Linked DNA regions of Homo sapiens: all the other regions are reported to be linked to region 3. Evidence: microRNA targets listed by miRTarBase, many of them from high-throughput screens and not tested one by one. Region 3 holds a microRNA gene; each other region holds the end of a gene's coding sequence.

Evidence for each region. Region 3 holds the annotated microRNA hsa-miR-6727-3p (UCCUGCCACCUCCUCCGCAG, at 2,053-2,072, shown strand). A microRNA usually pairs through its seed, bases 2 to 8, with sites in the 3' UTR of a target mRNA and lowers its output. Matches are read on the target gene's strand: a 7mer-m8 pairs with bases 2 to 8, a 7mer-A1 pairs with bases 2 to 7 and ends in A, and an 8mer does both.
Region 1: miRTarBase lists CEP76 as a target of hsa-miR-6727-3p. The part of its 3' UTR that is shown has no 7-base or 8-base seed match.
Region 2: the mRNA of FCAR is a reported target of hsa-miR-6727-3p. The part of its 3' UTR that is shown has no 7-base or 8-base seed match.

Annotation. Positions count from the first base shown.
Region 1 is chr18:12,670,658-12,673,657 of GRCh38, forward strand. It overlaps CEP76 (centrosomal protein 76), which reads right to left. Exons shown (of 12, transcript NM_024899.4): 12 at 1,968-2,846. The coding sequence ends at 2,708. It also overlaps a transcript of PSMG2 not described here. Among named protein-coding and RNA genes, the nearest start is that of SPIRE1, 14 kb to the left of the region's middle.
Region 2 is chr19:54,889,678-54,892,677 of GRCh38, reverse strand. FCAR (Fc alpha receptor) reads right to left here. Exons shown (of 5, transcript NM_002000.4): 5 at 1,258-3,000. The coding sequence ends at 2,815. Among named protein-coding and RNA genes, the nearest start is that of NCR1, 15 kb to the left of the region's middle. RefSeq lists an enhancer at 1-39.
Region 3 is chr1:1,310,185-1,314,573 of GRCh38, reverse strand. MIR6727 (microRNA 6727) reads left to right here and starts at 2,008; the gene lies at 2,008-2,072. PUSL1 (pseudouridine synthase like 1) reads right to left here. Exons shown (of 8, transcript NM_153339.3): 6 at 3,886-3,940; 7 at 3,503-3,665; 8 at 2,897-3,244. The coding sequence ends at 3,195. It overlaps INTS11 (integrator complex subunit 11), which reads left to right. Exons shown (of 17, transcript NM_017871.6): 8 at 209-273; 9 at 653-842; 10 at 982-1,065; 11 at 1,450-1,539; 12 at 1,625-1,787; 13 at 1,874-1,981; 14 at 2,073-2,134; 15 at 2,206-2,348; 16 at 2,427-2,556; 17 at 2,650-2,974. The coding sequence ends at 2,715.

The DNA.
Region 1 (3,000 bases), not on the chromosome of region 3:
TAACTTTTTTAAAAAGTTTTTTTTTTCTTTGAGATAGGGTCTTGCTCTGTCACCCAGGCTGGAGTGCAGTGGCACAATCTTTTGGGCTCAAGTGATTCACCCACCTCAGCCTCCCAAGCAGCTGGGACCACAGGTGTGCACGATCACGCCCTGCTAATTTTTTACATTTTTTGTAGAGAGGGGTTCTTGCTATGTTGCCCAGGCTGGTCTTAAACTCCTGAACCCAAGAGATTCTCCTGCCTCAGCCTCCCAGAGTACTGGAATTATAGGTGTGAACCACTATGCTTTAAAAAAAGCTTCAATTATTATTTTGCTAATTTTCTACAGTCATGTCAGTCTCACAAGAAACATCTGATTACCATTTTTGATGAAAATTGTAGAAGAGGGATCATAATATTTCAGACTTTTTAAACAAATTGAATATTTATTATACATAAAAATAAAACAAAGTAGATTTATTCTTTTAGAGAAATAGGGGGGGGTCTCTCTATGCTCCCAGGCTGGTCTTGAGCTACTTCTTGGGCCATCCTCTGGCCGCAGCCTCCAAAAGTGCTGGGATTATAGGTGTGAGCCATCACACCTGGCCCAAAAAGTAAATTTTAAGACACTTTTAGATTTTAATTTTCGAAAAACGAAATCATTTTATTTGTAGGGGTGAATTAAAGTGATTAAAAGAATTAATAACTTGGATAGCCAACTGGTATAGAGTTACTTTCTTAAGACCAATGGATAAAGCAACTAAATTAAGAACTACACATATCAGAGTGAACAAAGATTCTTTGAAAAAATAAAAAACTTAAAAAAAATGAAAAGAACTATGCACAGAAGTGCTAAATGGGCAATCAAACCCCTCATATCATGTATTATGCAGCTTCTTGCAAAAAGTTGAATTGCTACTCTTTTTAAAGTTTACTTTTGTTCACTTAACACTTTTTTTAATATATAAAATTTTAAAATAAGTTGAGGAATCAGGTTTCACACTTTCTTTTTTTTTTTTTTTTTTTTTTTTGAGACAGAGTCTTGCTCTGTCACCCAGGCTGGAATGCAGTGACGCGATCTTAGCTCACCACCTCTGTGGACTCAAGCGATCCTTCCGCCTCAGACTCCCGAGTAGCTTGGATTATGGGTGTGTGACACCATGCCTAGCTACTTAAAATTAACTTATAAAAAACATTTTTTTTGAGATGGAGTATTGCTCTGTTGCCCACGCTGGAGTACAGTGGCATGATCTTGGCTCATCACAACCTCCGCCTCCCAGGTTCAAGCGATTCTCCTGCCTCAGTCTCCTGAGTAGCTAGACTACAGGCACATGCCACCATGCCCAGCTAATTTTTGTATCTTTAGTAGAGACAGGGTTTCACTGTGTTGGCCAGGCTGGTCTTGAACCCCTGACCTCGTGATCCACCCACATCAGCCTCCCAAAGTGCTGGCATTACAGGTGTGAGCCACCATGCCTGGCCCTTTTTTTTTTTTCTGAGATGCAGTCTCGCTCTGCCTCCCATGCTGGAGTGCAGTGGCGCGATCTCACCTCACTGCAACCTCTGCCTCCCAGGTTCAAGCGATTCTCCTGCCTCAGCCTCCTGAGTAGCTGGGATTACAGGTGTGAGCCACCGCACCCGGCCTAATTTTCGTATTTTTAGTAGAGACAGGGTTTCACCATGTTGCCCAGGCTGGTCACGAACTCCTGACCTCAAGTGATCCACCCACCTCGGCCTCCCAAAGTGCTGGGATTACAGGCATAAACCACTACGCCGAGCCTTACAAAATTTTTAAAACGTGCTCAATTTTAAAACAAAAATCAGTATGGAATCACTCACATATGCTTGTTTTCAGTGGTCTCACACAATCAATCTCTTATTTAGATTAGTCACATATATGCTGATTTTTTTATCACAATGAAAGAAAAAAGGGTTTCAGAAGATAGAATCCATGAAGAGGCTAATAATGAATCCTCTGACCACAGAAAATCAGTGATCGACTGCAAGATCACAATTTATCAGTATCATAACAAAGAGGTATAATAAAGTTTTTCTAAAATACCCAATTCATTTTTACAACAAATCACAGTGATAAATATTTCTAAATGATTCATGTACTTTCATATGAGGTTATTAATATTTATGCTTTTCTGGTATTAGTTTTTTCCTACTCTTGCTTCAAGGTCCAACCATAAATTTCTGGACAGTCTCAAATATCCCAAGGACCACGAATAAACCACAAAAGTGGTAATTCATTAACATTTATTTTCACCAATGCAATAAATAAATCTGTCATGAGGTTAATTTCTCCTAATCTGTATAAAATAATTCCATTAACCTGTGAAAAGTAATGATCATACTGATTTGTCTAGGGCTCAAACCCTTAGACAAACATCTCTTTGATTACCTGTTTGTGTAAAGAAAACTGAATGCATTTTATATTAATATTTAAACTACTGATAACTGTAAACAAAGTAGCATTTATTAAAATAGAATATACACTTAATTTATACTAAATTCCAGGGAGATTTATACAAGTTTTTCAGCCTTAATTTTTAAAGGAATGCATGATTTTTTTTAAACATTACCAGTCAAGTATATACAAAATTGAAGTATGCCATTCAAGCCAGATTGTGATTTTAAAATAACAAACCTCTAAATAGCTAAGTAATGTACAATGTGTAAAATTCCAATTAAACACAGGTATAAATCTTATATAAATATTGGCCCTATAATACCGAGCGATATTTACAAGCAAACATGATCCAAACAGCACATGCAGATTCAGGGTAAGTAAATACTCGGACACGAACTGCCAGTCGCACTTGGTCTCCACGGCAACAGATTATTTCTTCACAGAAAGGAGATCTATTTAAGAAAAAAAAAATTATTCAATTAAGAAGTGACCATACACTTTAATTCCTTATTTGCAAGTAAATCAGTATTTAAAATAATTTTTTCAGGCTAGGCGTGGTGGCTCATGCCTGTAATCCCAGCACTTTGGGAGGCCGAGACAGGTGGA
Region 2 (3,000 bases), not on the chromosome of region 3:
CTCCTGCCTCAGCCTCCTCAGTAGCTGGTAATGCAGGTGCGTGCCACCACACCTGGCTAATTTTTGTATTTTTAGTAGAGACGGGGTTTTGCCATGTTGGCCAGGCTGGTCTCGAACTCCTGGCCTCGTGATCTGCCTGCCTTAGCCTCCCAAAGTGCTGGGATTTCAGGTGTGAGCCACTGCGCTCAGCCTGGGAAATGTATACTTCAGAGATTGTTGGATTTTCAGGGCCTTCTGTGGCTTGACGTCATCTGGAAAAGTGTGGTCATTGGGAAGATATTACTTTGATTGGTTGTCACTCATGCTTGGGTGTTTACTGAAATGAGTCTGATTGGATGACTTTTAGAAGCAAGGAGCTGCCTGACTGATGGTAACATAACAATATAAAACGTATGGAGTGGCCGGGCTTTGTGGCTCACTCCTGTAATCCCAGCACTTTGAGAGGCTGAGGCAGGCAGATCACCCTGAGGTCAGAAGTTTGTGACCAGCTTGGCCAACATGGCGAAACCCGTCTGTACTAAAAATACAAAAATTATCTGCGTGTGGTGGCAGGTGCCTATAATCCCAGCTACTGGGGAGGCTGAGGCAGGAGAATTGCTGAACCCGGGAAAGAGAGGTTGCAGGGAGCCGAGGTCACGTCACTGCTCCCCAGCCTGGGTGACAGAGCAAGACCCCGTCTCAAAAAAAAAAAAAAAAAAAAAGAGCATCTTCACAGAGATGAGTTGTCATTGATGATGGGTTAAAAATCAGTTTTGGTGGCTACTTGTTACTGTGGTTACAGGACAATAAAATACTTTTCTGAAGAGCTCAGGAACTTTATTATTCTGAAAACGCTTTTTCCAAACAAGGTCCTTCTGTCAGCAAAACGACTTATATGAGTTTAATCTTATCCATCTCTGGGAATCTAGCCCCATTGTGTCTCTGTAATCCAAGTCCTGGACCTGACGTAAAGTCCCTCAACCCCCTTCATCCAAAATTGTGGCACTTTCCCTTTATTTATTTATTTATTATTTATTTGTTTGTTTACTTTTGAGACGGAGTCTCGCTCTGTGGCCCAGGCTGGAGTGTAGTGGCGTGATCTCAGCTCATTGCAAGCCCCGCCTCCCAGGTTCACGCCATTCTCCTGCCTCAGCCCCTGGAGTAGCTGGGACTACAGGCACCTGCCACCACACCTGGTGAAAAAAATCAGAACAAACTGAAGATATGGGCCAGAACTTGTATAAAGTGTGAAAAGCAGTCAATAAAGAAAGTTAGAAATACTTTGCATTTTTTTTTTAATCACAGGACCTGAGTTAAGCCAAGAATACAGTAGAAATTTTATCAAGTAGAGATAAGCTCTCAGTAAAGGATAAAAGTGGGCCTAAGTCCCTTCAGTTTCACTGGAAGTAGGACCCTTACATTTTATAATTATATTTTCATACATAAGCTACTGGACAATGAAGTAAATAGCAATCAGTGAAAGAGCCACATATGACCAACTTAGATTTCCTTGAGTAAAGTCTGTCAAGGGTAAAGCTGTGAAAGTTTATAAGAAAAAAGAATGGGGAATTATTTGGAAGACCATTTGAGTTTTGTACACAAGAATTTAATGTTTGCACACTTGATAATATATGTGAATATCATCAAAACTAAGTGAAAAAATAAATTAATGAGGTGAAACACATGCCTGTATTCCTTGTATGAAAATCCGGTAGAAATAGGGTTTGTGAAATAAATAGGGTAATCCTCCTGTAGGATTATGACTTTCACTCTTATCAATTTGTAGATGAACACAGCAGGAGGCTGAGGTAGGAGGATTGCTTGAGACCAGGAGTTCAAGACCAGCTTAGGCAACATAGGGAGAGCCTCACTTCAACAAAAAAAAATAAAGGAGGGGGGTTATTGAATATATTTGGCATGCTTACCAACCATTTATATTTGGGGAAGACACATTTAAAAATATAAAAAGAAGGCTGGGCGCAGTGGCTCACATCTGTAATCCCAGCACTTTGGGAGGCCGAGGCGGGCAGATCACGAGGTCAGAAGTTTGAGACCAGCTTGGCCAATGTGATGAAACCCCGTCTCTACTAAAAATACTGTAAAAGTAGCTGGGCGTGATGGTGGGAGCCTGCAATCCCAGCTACTTGGGAGGCCGAGGCAGGAGAATCACTTGAACCCAGGAGGCAGAGGTTGCAGTGAGCCGAGATCGTGCCACTGCACTCCAGCCTGGGCAACAGAGTGAGACTCTGTCTCAAATAAAAATAAAAATAAAAATAAATAAAATAAATAAAAAAAGAGAAGAACAATGAAGGAAGAAATTAAACAGGATATAAAAAATCAGAAGACAGATAAGATGGAAAACCATAACTTATGTGCAGAAAGGTGGGTGCAAATCGATCAGTCCTGCATAAGAAAACACCATTTGATTGGTTTGAACATGCATCTGGCCAGGCGTGGTGGCTCATGCCTATAATCTCAGCACTTTGGGAGGCCAAGGTGGGTGGATCACCTGAGGTCAGGAGTTCGAGACCAGCCTGGCCAACACAGTGAAACCCCATCTCTACTAAAAATACAAAAATTAGCTGGGTGCAGTGGTATGTGCCTGTAATTCCAGCTACTTGGGAGGCTGAGGCACAAGAATCACTTGAACCCAAGAGGTTCAATGAGCCGAGATTGCTCCACTGCACTCCAGCCTGGGTGACAGAGCCAGACTCTGTCTCAAAAAAAAAAAAAAGTAGATTCAAGCTTCTTAGTGAGCTTTTCTCTCTTGTGTCCTTCAAGTAGCTTTGTCGGACTCCACAGTCCTGGCTCCTCTCTGCCTTCACCTCCAGGTGTTTACTTGCAGACACTTGGTGTTCGTGCAAAGGTCAATCCTGGCTGACACATCTGTTGGCTCCAGCTCGGTTCAGCCACATCTGCCGAGGCTTCCTTGTTCAGTGCCGTATGGCTGTGCCAATTTTCAACCAGTATGGCCAAGAGAGCCACGAGGACCAGTCCTGCCACGGCCATGCGGATCAAGTT
Region 3 (4,389 bases):
CCCTTCTGTCTCTCATGCGGCTCCCTCCTGTCTCTCATACGGCTCCCTTCTGTCTCTGGAGAGCGGCTGGGACGGGACTGGGAGCAGATGAGAGGCTAAGGTCCCTATGAGGCCGCAGCTCTTGGGCACCTGGCCGTGCCCTCACTGGACGCTGCCTGCTGTGTCGAGGGGCCATGTGCCCAGGGCTCCTGCCTTGTGTCCCCCTCAGGTGCTGATACCTGTGTTCGCGCTGGGCCGCGCCCAGGAGCTCTGCATCCTCCTGGAGACCTTCTGGTAGGTGCCGCCAGGACGGCTCTTTAAGGAGCCCCTGGCCCGGCCTGAACACAGTCCAGTTGGTGGGCAGCCCTGTCCAGCGTAGCGGTGGCATCTTGGCCCTGCTTGCTGCTGTCCTGGGGGGCCGCTCGTGTGCTGTGTGACCCCAGGAAGCCTGTGACATCCCGTCAGCGCCACCGTGTGCGGCTCTTGTAGGGGTTCCTGGTTCTCCGCTGAGCCCGGCTGCTGCAGGGCTTAATGGGACAAGTGGTCGCGACTGGACTCAACCTGGCCCGTGCGTGGGCTGTGCAGACACGGGTGTTGGGGGTGACCCGGCCGAGTCCTGCCCTGCAGCATTCTCCCCTGTGGCCACTGTGCTGACTGGGCCGGTGGTCCCCAGGGAGCGCATGAACCTGAAGGTGCCCATCTACTTCTCCACGGGGCTGACCGAGAAGGCCAACCACTACTACAAGCTGTTCATCCCCTGGACCAACCAGAAGATCCGCAAGACTTTCGTGCAGAGGAACATGTTTGAGTTCAAGCACATCAAGGCCTTCGACCGGGCTTTTGCTGACAACCCAGGACCGATGGTGAGGCCCGCGGCAGGGCCGGCCAGCACATCCACACCCGTCGGTCTCCTGTCTTCCGCAGGTGTCTGGGCTTGGGCCTGCAGTGGGGGTGGGGGCATCTGCTGCCCTGACCCCCCACCTGGCCCTGTGTGTCCTGTAGGTTGTGTTTGCCACGCCAGGAATGCTGCACGCTGGGCAGTCCCTGCAGATCTTCCGGAAATGGGCCGGAAACGAAAAGAACATGGTGAGGGCATGGTGAGGTGTGGGAATCTGGAAGCTGGAGGCCGACGGGTTGTCCTTCCACCCATGCTGTCTCTGAGCTCTCACTGGCTTGGCCTCGTGCTGGCCAAGGGACGTGGCTGCTGCTGCTGGGGAACGGGGGCGATGTCCGCCTGGAGCTGCTCAGTCTCTGTGACACAGCTTGTCCACCTCGGGCAGAACAGCCCCAGCCCAGCCCTGGACAGTCTTGTGCCAAAACCTGAGCCCTTTGGAGTCTGCAGCTAGGCTTGGTCGGGCGCCGCTGGCAGGTGGAAACAGCTTCCAGGGGTTCAGGCGGGGGCATCCCGGGCAAGGCCTTGAGGTGCCAAGGCTGGAGTTCCCTGGCTGTGAGCTCTGTGCCTGCCCCCAGGTCATCATGCCCGGCTACTGCGTGCAGGGCACCGTCGGCCACAAGATCCTCAGCGGGCAGCGGAAGCTCGAGATGGAGGGGCGGCAGGTGGTGAGTCTCGACCCCGCACTGGGCTGGCAGGGCCGAGGGGCACCTCCTGGTGGTAACCACTGTCCACGCCCCGTGGCCTCTGTAGCTGGAGGTCAAGATGCAGGTGGAGTACATGTCATTCAGCGCACACGCGGACGCCAAGGGCATCATGCAGCTGGTGGGCCAGGCAGAGCCGGAGAGCGTGCTGCTGGTGCATGGCGAGGCCAAGAAGATGGAGTTCCTGAAGCAGAAGATCGAGCAGGAGCTCCGTAGGCAGCCGGGCGGGCGGCGTGGGGCCCACCTCGGGTCAGCACGGGCAGCCTGGGCTGAGGCTCTCTCTTCCCCCGGGGTCCAGGGGTCAACTGCTACATGCCGGCCAATGGCGAGACGGTGACGCTGCCCACAAGCCCCAGCATCCCCGTAGGCATCTCGCTGGGGCTGCTGAAGCGGGAGATGGCGCAGGGTATGCGGGCTGGGCAGGGCAGGGCAGGGTGCTCGGGGCAGGCGGCTGGGAGCGGCCCTCACATTGATGGCTCCTGCCACCTCCTCCGCAGGGCTGCTCCCTGAGGCCAAGAAGCCTCGGCTCCTGCACGGCACCCTGATCATGAAGGACAGCGTGAGTGCCAGGACGGTCTCTGGAGGGGGGAGGGCCGCTGCTGCGCTCACTGACCTGTCCCTGCCCCACAGAACTTCCGGCTGGTGTCCTCAGAGCAAGCCCTCAAAGAGCTGGGTCTGGCTGAGCACCAGCTGCGCTTCACCTGCCGCGTGCACCTGCATGACACACGCAAGGAGCAGGAGACGGCATTGCGCGTCTACAGCCACCTCAAGAGGTGGGCGCCCGGCCCCGCCCCCCCCCCACTCCCTTGGGCCCTGGAGGCCAGGCAGGGTCTCACCGAGCCTCCCCACAGCGTCCTGAAGGACCACTGTGTGCAGCACCTCCCAGACGGCTCTGTGACTGTGGAGTCCGTCCTCCTCCAGGCCGCCGCCCCTTCTGAGGACCCAGGCACCAAGGTGCTGCTGGTCTCCTGGACCTACCAGGTAAGGGGTGACCCCCACCCCACCGCGGTCAACACAGGTATCAACATTCCTCCCTGTCCTGCACCACCCACAATGCTTTTGCCTCTGCCCTAGGACGAGGAGCTGGGGAGCTTCCTCACATCTCTGCTGAAGAAGGGCCTCCCCCAGGCCCCCAGCTGAGGCCGGCAACTCACCCAGCCGCCACCTCTGCCCTCTCCCAGCTGGACAGACCCTGGGCCTGCACTTCAGGACTGTGGGTGCCCTGGGTGAACAGACCCTGCAGGTCCCATCCCTGGGGACAGAGGCCTTGTGTCACCTGCCTGCCCAGGCAGCTGTTTGCAGCTGAAGAAACAAACTGGTCTCCAGGCTGTCTTGCCTTTATTCCTGGTTAGGGCAGGTGGTCCTAGACAGCAGTTTCCAGTAAAAGCTGAACAAAAGACTACTTGGTACTCTCTTCTTGGTGTACATGGCTGTGTCCTGCACTGTGCCCCATCCCGCCTGGGACAGAGACGGGCATCCAGGGTGCTGGGACCCGGGCAGGGAGGCTACTGTGGAGACCAGGCAGCAGTGCTGTGGGCCCCAAGCAGCTGTGACTGCCCTGGCTTGACCAGCACAGGGTTGGGCCTGGTGTGGCCTAACTTTGGCTTGAGTGTCCAGGGTCATCCGTGGCTCCCGAACTGTGGCCCCTGCAGGGTGCAGGAGGCAGCACCTGTGGACGGACCAGACCCTGCGTCAGCCTGGGGCAAGACCGGCCCAGCACCCTCCCCACCGCTGAGACCACTCCCATGACCAGGGAGTGGGCCAGCCCAGGACGGGCTACGGGCTGGCCTGAGGGACTGCAGCCCTGGGCGGGGGGCTGCTTCACCCCCAGTTGCTGCCGTCAGTGGCCCCTGGCCCCCCACCCCATGCCTCGGCCACAGTAGTCACTGGGCACATGACAGGAGCTTCTCGTGCCTGTTTTTCTTACCGAGGTTCCCGTACAGCACTGACTTGAGGAATAAGCCGTGGGCTGGGGCTACACGTGTCTGGTGCTTGCCCAGGGGATCTTGGCTCTCCAGAATCGTCTTCACCTGGGCAGGTGCCAAAGCCCCCAGCCCCACGGCCACCAGCACAGCCGTCATCCTCCGTACCTGTGACCCAGAGCCACCTGTGACCCAGAGCCGCCCGTGACCCACCAGCACAGCCGTCATCCTCCGTACCTGTGACCCAGAGCCGCCCGTGACCCACCAGCACAGCCGTCATCCTCCGTACCTGTGACCCAGAGCCGCCCACGACCCAGAGCCAAGACTGCACAGGGGCCTGCCCACCCTCAGCCCCACCCCCTGGGGACGGCCCCAGAACAGAGCCTACCTGTCTATACAGGAAAGACTGGCTCTCAAACTCCAGGTTCCAGAACCGCAGCTTCCTGGAAAAATACGTACCTGTAGGTGTCTGTGGGGCAGTGTTTGCCATCCTCAGCCTACTATGTGGCCTTGGACGGGAGAGTGACAGGGTGGGCCTAAAGACGAGCCTGGTTCCCACTAGCTTGGCCACCAGGGGCCCTGGCTGATCTCCTGCCCCCAGTGAGGCCCATTGGAGGGGCTTAAAACCAGAGAAACAATGCTTGGGCAAGGAGGCAGCAGGACCCTGGAGGCTGGGCAGGTAGCCTGGCCATCCCAGAGGGGCTTGCCCTGGGCCCTCACCTAGGGTCCTGGTGCAGGGTCTGGGAACGTGGCTGGTGCGGGTGCCAGAGACCCCCAGTCCTGTACCTGCTGCTCTGCCACAGAAGTCTGGGGCTGGCAGAAGTTCTTCCCCCCTTCAGGGCTCACCCCAATAGGGGAGGTTCTGGTCAGAAGCTGCCACCTGGTGGGTGGC